Linked DNA regions of Homo sapiens. The protein of the gene in region 2 interacts with the protein of the main gene of each other region in a pairwise test. Each region holds a gene or a part of one and is shown on either strand. Other genes may lie near its edges.

The links. Proteins that work in one complex are often made in the same cells at the same time.
Region 1: the proteins of MEST (region 2) and ING5 interact in a two-hybrid assay, tested with the Homo sapiens proteins (one large-scale study listed by BioGRID and IntAct).
Region 3: the proteins of MEST (region 2) and CD300C interact in a two-hybrid assay, tested with the Homo sapiens proteins (one large-scale study listed by BioGRID and IntAct).

What each region holds. Positions count from the first base shown.
Region 1 is NC_000002.12:241,715,539-241,719,038, reverse strand, and holds part of ING5 (inhibitor of growth protein 5), read right to left. Parts: intron 1-3,500. UniProt on the Homo sapiens protein: Component of the HBO1 complex, which specifically mediates acetylation of histone H3 at 'Lys-14' (H3K14ac) and, to a lower extent, acetylation of histone H4. Component of the MOZ/MORF complex which has a histone H3 acetyltransferase activity.
Region 2 is NC_000007.14:130,504,525-130,506,965, reverse strand, and holds the end of MEST (mesoderm-specific transcript homolog protein), read right to left. Parts: intron 2,028-2,441; coding exon 1,910-2,027; 3' UTR 501-1,909; downstream 1-500. Other genes in the region: COPG2 (coatomer subunit gamma-2), read left to right, coding at 160-290.
Region 3 is NC_000017.11:74,540,573-74,543,115, forward strand, and holds the end of CD300C (CMRF35-like molecule 6 precursor), read right to left. Parts: intron 2,416-2,543; coding exon 2,289-2,415; intron 1,165-2,288; coding exon 1,017-1,164; 3' UTR 501-1,016; downstream 1-500.

The DNA.
Region 1 (3,500 bases), on a different chromosome or scaffold from region 2:
CCAGCCCTATTGGCCTGGACTAAAACAGAACGAACACCTCCTGGGGAGAACAGAAATTTCCCTCTCCACGCTTCCTTTATATCTAAAGTCAGACAGCTAATAAATCATGAGACATGTACCCTCAGCAGGGAAATAGGACTGATTATGTTTTTTTAAAAGCTGGTTACCAAGGAATGGTGGCACATGCCTGTGATCCCGGCTACTCAAGTGACCCTCCCACCTCAGCCTTCCAAAGTGCTGAGATTACAGGCATGAGCCAAAGCACCCAGCCCTACAATCTCTTAAATGAAAAATGTATTAAAGGAGATTAAAACTAACTTAGGGCCGGGCACAGCAGCTCACGCCTGTAATCCCAGCACATCGGGAGGCCAAAAACAGGCAGATCCACCTGAGGCCAGGAGTTCGAGACCAGCCTGCATAACACGGTGAAACCCTGTCTATACTAAAAATACAAAATTAGCCAGTCATGGTGGCACGTGCCTGTAATTCCAGCTACTTGGGAGGCTGAGGCAGAGAATCGCTTGAACTTGGGAGGCGGAGCTTGCAGTGAGCCAAGATTGTACCAGTGCACTCCAGCCTGGGTGACCAAGCAAGACCGTCTCAAAAAAAAAAAAAAAAAGACAGAAAGAGAAAAGAAGGAAGGAAGGAAGGAAGGGAGGGAGGGAGGAAGGGAGGGAGGGAGGGAAGGAGGAAGGAAGTGAGGGAGGGAGGGAGGAAGGGAGGAAAGAAGAAAGGAAGGAAGGAAAGAAAGAAGGAAAGGGAAGGTGAGAGGCTGAGCTGGGCGGATCACTTGAGGCCAGGAGTTTGAAACCAGCCTGGCCAACAGGCTGAAACCCCGACTCTACTAAAAATACAAAACTTAGCCGGGTGTGGTGACGCTCACCTGTAATCCCAGCTACTTGGAAGGCTGAGGCGGGAGAATGGCTTGAACCCGGGAGGCAGAGGCTGCGGTGAGCGGAGATTGCGCCACCGCACTCCAGCCTGGGCCACAGAGCCTGAACCTGTCTCATAAATAAATAAAGTAATAGAAACAAATCAAACTGAAGTACAGAAAGAAAAAAGCTTGCAGAAAGTAAGCAGAGCCTCGGTGAGCTGTGAGAAAATCTAAGCTAAGGAACGCACAGGGAGCTGGACAGCAGGAAGAGGAGAAAGGAGAGCACAAAAATACTGGAAGAACTGTCTGAAAATTTTCCAAATTCGATGCAAAGTATAAACCAACAGTTCAAAGATGCTCAACAAGTTCCACGCAAAATATACACAAAAAAATCACACCAATACACATCATAACCAAACTGTTAAGAGCCAGTGACAATGAGAAATCTTAAAAGCAAAAAAAAAAAAAGAAACCACCAAAAATAATTATTATCAGTAATTTATCATCAGAATCAATGAAAGACAGAAGAAAATGAGAGAACATCTTTAGCGATAAAAGAAAAAAGGTCAACCTAAAATTCTATACGCAGTGAAATAAAAGCATTTTCAGAGAAACAAAAACAGAGAATTCATCACCATCAGCATACATGTACTGCAAAAAATGTTAAAGTTCTTCAGTAGAGGAGAAATGACAAGACAGAAATTTGCATCCACATAAAGAAATATACGTAAGCAGAATATGTATGGAAAAAAAATTTTTAAAGAAAGAAAATAAATATTAAGAAATAATAGTTGGGCCAGGCGCGGTGGCTCATGCCTGTCATCCTGCCACTTTGGGAGGCTGAGGCGAGAGGGTCACTGGAGGCCAGGAGTTCGAGACCAGCCTGGCCAACATGGCAAAACCCCATCTCTACTAAAAATACAAAAATTAACCAGGTGAGTAGGTGGGTGTAATCTCAGCTACTCAGGAGGCTGAGGCACAAGAATCACTTGAACCTGGGAGGCAGAGGTTGCCGTGAGCTGAGATCGCACCACTGCACTCCAGCCTGGGACACAGAGCAAGACTCTGTCTCAAAAAAAAAAAAAAATGAAGGTTACCAGAAATGGCAACTATATGAGGTAACTATATATGGGGTGACTTTTGTGGTGAGAACACTTAAAATCTACACATTTTTTTGAGACTATATTGTTATTAACTGTAGTCACCATGTTGTAAAACGGATCTTTTGAACTTATTCCTCCTATCTAAATGAAATTCTGTATCCAACGTCTCCCCTGACCACCCCAGCGCCTGACCACCATTCTACTCTCTACTTCTGTGAGTTCAACATCTTTACATTCCACATATATTTTAAGGCGTGTTTCACGTCATCAGTGGTTTGCATCTAAGGTAATAACGTGCTGGGAAGCTCAGATCACAGGCAAAGTGAAGGACAACAGCACAAAGGCAGGAAATGGAAGAACACTTGTGTGGAGCCACACGTTAAACATCAAATAGTGTAATATCTGAAGCTCACTGTGATAACTTAAGGAAACTGAGTGCACACACTAGAACAATCCTTAAAATACAGGGGCCGGGGCAGTGGCTCACGCCTGTAATCCTAGCACTTTGGGAGGCCGAGGTGGGTGGATCACTTGGGGTCAGGGGTTCGAGACCAGCCTGGCCAAAATGGTGAAAACCTGTCTCTACTAAAAATACAAAAACATTAGCCGGGTGTGGTGGCGCACACCTATAATCCCAGCTACTGCGGAGGCTGAGGCATGAGAATCGCTTGAACCTGGGAAGCAGAGGTTGTAGTGAGCCAAGATCATGCCATTGCAAATTGTACTCCAGCCTGGGCAACAGTGCAAGACTCCGTCTCAAAAAAAAAAAAAAAAAAAAAAGCATGGCTAATAAGACAAGAGTGGGGAAAAAAACGGAATACTAAAAAATACCTGATTAGTCCAAAAGAAGACAGCAAAGGAGCAGAAGGAACAAACAGAAAACTAATAGCAAGATGGTGAACCTAAATCCCACCATATCATTAATTATGTTAAATATGAACAGACCAAATATTGCAATGAAGGCCGGGTGCGGTGGCTCATGCCTGTAATCCCAGCACTTTACAGGGAGGGGAGGCCAAGGTGGGCAGATCATTTGAGGTCAGGAGTTCGAGACCAGCCTGCCCAGCATGGTGAAATCCTGTCTCTGTTAAAAATACAAAAATTAGCTGGCTTTCAAAGGATTTCAATTATGTAATGTTCTTTGACCACAACAGAAGTCAACTAAAAAATTAAAATTAGAAAGGTATCTGAAAAATCCCAAATTATTTGGAAATTGAGACACATACTTCTACATAAGTTATAGGGCAAAGAAGTAGCATGAAAAAAAAAATTCTAGGTCAGGTGCGGTGGCTCACGCCTGTAATCCCAGTATGTTGGGAGGCCAAGGCAGGCAGATCACCTGAGGTCAGGAGTTCAAGACCAGCCTGGCCAACATGGTGAAACCCTGTCTCTACTAAAAATACAAAAAAAAATTAGCCAGGCATGGTGATACGTGCCTGTAATCCCAGCTACCCAGGAGGCTGAGGCAAGAGAATTGCTTGAACCTGGGAGGTGGAGGTTGCAGTGAGCCAAGATCACACCAC
Region 2 (2,441 bases):
TATTTGGAATTTATGTTTGTTTAGGATTCAGTTTCCACAAGTCTCTGGAAAAGCTAAACTAAACTAATAGAAAGGAGATGCAGGGATAGCATGATAAATTTCATTATCCAGTGCTTGTTTTGGGTTCTTAATATGGTTTTCCTTACTTTTTTCTCTCAGGTATATTCAGAGGTGGCTATGATTTATTGGTGAGGTCCAGGCTGGCCTTAGCCGATGGAGTGACCATGCAGGTGACTGTCAGAAGTAAAGAGAGAACACCTGTAGATGTTATCTTAGCTTCTGTTGGATAAATGCTTACTGGACAAGAGGAAACTGATGCACACTACATGGTCAGTGGGCTTTTAGGCTAGTGGCATCAGTTTCCCAGAATCAGACTTTTGAAGATGAATGACTTTGGAGAAGCAAATTAAACATTTGGCCCTGAGCCAGCAGATCAAGCAAATGTCTATCTTTGCGCATGGGTTGTTTTTTTTTTTTTTTCTTTTTATTCTACTTGGTCAGCTTTGGGACGATAGTGCAGCTTTGGGTGATCTTGAAAATCAAATACTATCCTATACTCCAGCTGCTTAACTTCATTTTATTCTTTAATGTGTACCTGAAAGCTCCTGGCAATGCTGGAAAATTTTTATCCCAGAGGGGTGGGGGGGAGGGGGGAGGGGAAGCCAGAGTCCACTTTTGTCACAATTCATTTTTATTAATAGAAAATAAACACTTATTCCAGTTTCAAAGTTGTTATACTTGAAGTTGCTAATTTAAAAAAACGAATTTTAAATAATCACTTAATAATCCTGCTTTGACTAAGACAATGAAATGTGGCTTTAAAAAAAAAGTATTCAGCACCATTTGCTCATAGGTCTTTCAGAGTTTGTTCTTAAAGTTTCTGGAACTTTCCTGTCTGTAAAGTAACAGGAATTACTGAGCTACATTGGAAAGCCTCTCTGGGACAGGCAGTGGGGAGTTAAGCAGTCATCATAAAGGAATCAGTGTACATTCAGCATGGTGACTTGACTACACAACAATCCCTTCCCCTCTACTGTAGCTCAAGAGAGACATGCTTCTAACCACTGAGGTATGAGGAGTCTCAGACTGTTATTTGCTGTTAGAATTGGTCTTCCCAGCTAATAACAGTACATCTCTGGCACAGATGCTATTGGTCCTTAATGTCCTGTGATTTTAGGAAATAGTTTGGATTTAGTTCAATTTATTCAGAAACCAAATGTGTTTAATTAGCTTCACTACTCTGGCAGAGTAAGGGTATGCTGGTTTAGTATCTTTATAAAATATATATAATGTATAGGTAAATCATAGTCTTAAATCATACCTAAAATACTGTATCATTTAAACCAATATCTATTTTAACAAAATGTTTATAACTAAAAACAGCTGATGAAACACTAAATCCAAAGGTATGACAAAGAGGACTCAGCTCTGTGTTGCTTAAAGAACTTTTAAAAGGCATGTGCCCATAACGTCATTCGAGGAGAGGGAAGGAGCCCCCCTTCTCCTCCTCCTTACTATAGAATTCCTGTTGGGGGTGGGCCAGAAATTAGCACTTCTAAATATTTCAGAGAAGTCCAAAGTGTTAAAAAAAAGTCTTTTATGCAAAAGAACGTCTTTCTGCATCAGTGAATAGTAATGCTCATCAGAATTTCCTAATAGCACAAAAAACAAAGCCAAGTCTATACATTTGATCAGATATCAAAGTAATGGGAGGTGGACTATTATGTCAACCTTAGTCAGAGCTCCTGCTGGCTTCTTCCTATACACTGTTCACCAATTTGAGTAAAGTGGACTTTGTGAGAGAATTATGTTTGATGGCCAGGACCTCTTTTGGGCATTTCTTCCTAAGTGGAATACACAACACATAAGGGAGTAGGGGAGGTAATACAGGGAAGCTACTCTTTCCAGCTCAGAAGGAGTTGATGAAGCCCATATATGCATTCAAGAAGCCCATGGGATCCTCTAGCTGTGGATAGTGGCTAATGTGGTCATCCAGAATCGACACTGTGGACCGCGGCAGCGTTTTCCTAGTGGAAGAGAACAGCACGCAGGTGAACTTGAGGCTGGAGCGGGAGGGATGTAAGCCAGTGGGAAGCCCCAGTAAATGACCCTGTGGACACACCACACTGGAAGGAGCCACCAAAGAGCTTATTCACCTTCTACTCTGAAATTGTATCTTAGGCAGATAAACTTGCCAATTCCATTTATACAAACTAGTTTTTAAATGTTCATAATCCAACAAACAACAACTTGAAAATATAACACTTTTGCAACAATTGTCAAAGCAAGATGACTTTCAGCTCCTTAGAGAAGGATGAAGCATCAAACAAGTGGATCACACAGCAACTCACTGCCCAAGCAGAGATAACCAAGGATCTTCCCTTAATCCCAGGAGGAGATGAGAGAGGGGGTATTTTATTTAAAATTATATGCAAGCTGTT
Region 3 (2,543 bases), on a different chromosome or scaffold from region 2:
ACCAGGAGGACTCATGGGAATCATCTGCCTCACAGGGGTCTTGGGTGTTGGCCAGGTCATCATGGCGACCCTGGAACTGAAATGGTGGGCAAATGATAACATCTTTCGTCTGTATAGACAGACATGGTCTACACTACTGAGCAAAAGACTCACTTAACTACCACATCAAGGAGTCATAGCCCTCCATCCGTTTCCAAATTTGCACCAGTTAAAACCCACAGCCCTGGAATGAAGGAGAGGTCAGGTCCCCTTGAAGAAGGAGGAAGGGTAGGCCTGGTTATGCTACCACAGTTCACACTGAGAATCTTCTACCAGCTCTCCCAGAGGGACCTAAAGACACTGGCCAGGATGTGTCTACCTGAAGGAGGGAATAGTCAGGCTTTGGGGGAAATTCTGGATCCTTTTCTGCAGGGACCCCCATTCCGAGAGGCCTAACATGGGGCTTGGTCCACTATTCTCAGCAAAGGCCTGTGGAAATCAGGGAACAATGGATTTCTCACTCAGGTCTGACTGAGTGGGCCTGATACATCCCAAACCTACACATTGTCATTTATTAAAGTTTGAAAGCATCATTGAATCGACACACTCAGCAAATGGAAGCAGCCGCATATTCTACACTCCTGGACCCAGGGAGTGTGGGCCATTATGGTGGCAAAGGTGCAGGGGAGTCCTAGACCTGCTTCTCCCTGTGAAAACGGTGGAGGAAGCAGTGCCAGGCTCCTGGAGAAATGGAAGGGTGCAGGGAGGGCATCCGGGCACTCAGAGGTATTGCTGACGGCCCGAGGCTTAGCTGGCCGGGGCGTGCACATGAGACGTGGACTCACAGCTCAGGGCGTCCATGTCCGTCAGGTTCACATGTGACACATGAGGATCGGGCACAGGGAAAAGGCTGAAGGAGGCTCACAAAGGATTCCAGGAGATGTGGAGAGAGCAGCCCGGGAGGGAGTGGTCAGGAGGTCATTCCAGTCCCCCAGAGGGGCTCTGTTGCAGCACAGGGCCTTGATGGACAGCAGATGCTACTGGTTCTCACCCTTGGGCCAATTCTGCCTGCTTCTAGAGCTTCTCTGAGGTCTGTTCACCCAGAGGACGGCACCCAGCATGCTCAGGAGCAGGGGCAGCTCCAAGAGGACCAGGAGCAGGAAGCGGACATTGCTGAACAGGGAGCTGTGGGGACACGGTGACAGGCAGTGAGTCACCTCCCCAGGGGAGGCCCAGGTGCCCTCCACCATCCCCTGACCCTTGTGTCCCAATCCTGTGACCACAGCCAACCACATAAGCACCCCCCTGGACAGTCCATCCCGTCTCAGCATCACGGCCCCTAACCCTCAGCCTCGGATTTACCCTTGACCTGAGGACTGTGACACAGGAAGGGCAGGACCATGAGAGGACGTGAGGTCACGCCAGGGATCCAGGCAGGGTCTGTGTCCAGGACGCAGCTGTCTACCTCTGTGCTCCCCATGGAGGGTTACCCAGCTGGGGTCCCGGAATTCACAAAGGGTTATTTGTTTGGTGTCAACTCTCCTGTACACAGCGTTTCCAGGAGGGCAGGGACCATTTGTTTCATTCACAGTGAGTACCTGCTGCCTACCCGGAGTCTCCAATAATCTGCCCTACAACTTCAGTGGTTGTTGAAGGAATTAATGAATGGACAGCTCAGCTCTCAGCTCCTCAGAGGACTGGGCTTATCAAACAGGATGAAACTCTGGCCAGGGCTGCGAGAGAGGCAGGGGAGAGGACCAGGGCCACCGGACCCCAGAGCATCTGCCCCCTTCCCTGGCCTGGCCAGGTCCCAAGGCTCCTCGCAGGACATTTGCCTCACTCCTCCCTCCACCTGGACCCTTCTTCCTCCAGACCCCAGAGTGCCCAGCCCCCAACCCTTGAGGTCTCTGTGCTCATGTCCTCTAATTCTCAAACCCTCTTCTGATCATCGTCAGTGAAATAGCAACTCCAACACCTGCACACGCTCTCCCCAAACCCAAGAGTCAAACATCTCATCCCAGCATTCATTACCCTTTGCTGTATTTGTACATCAGCCTCTGTGCTGACTTGCTCAATGCGTGAATCCACGCAGTAGAACTCAACTTCCACCAGGGCAGGACAGTGGCTGTGTGGTTCCCTGCTGTGACCCAATCCCAAAAGGAGCGCCTGACACTTAATAGAACCTTCACGTTTGGTGTGGGAGGTGCGAACAAAGAAGGGACTGGAAGAAGGGACATCCGAGTCCCCTAAACATCACACGCAGTGGGGAGGCCGCCAGCGTGGCCCAGTCCTATGCGCAGGCACCTTACCCAGGGTGTGGGCTGGGTTCGGGGCTGTCCTTTCTGGTCACGCTGGGCCAGGTGTGCACGGGCAGCTTCGTGGGAGGACCTGAGGTGCCCATGGAGCTCTGGGGGCTGGAGGCTGTGGTCGTCCCGGCTGTGGGTGAAACACAGGTCAACCTTGATGACATCACATGGGTCTCCCACTTACTCTCACCTGTTCTGCTCCAATTTTCACAGACAAGGTCACCAATGATGTGCTGGACAGATGCCCTGCATCCATCA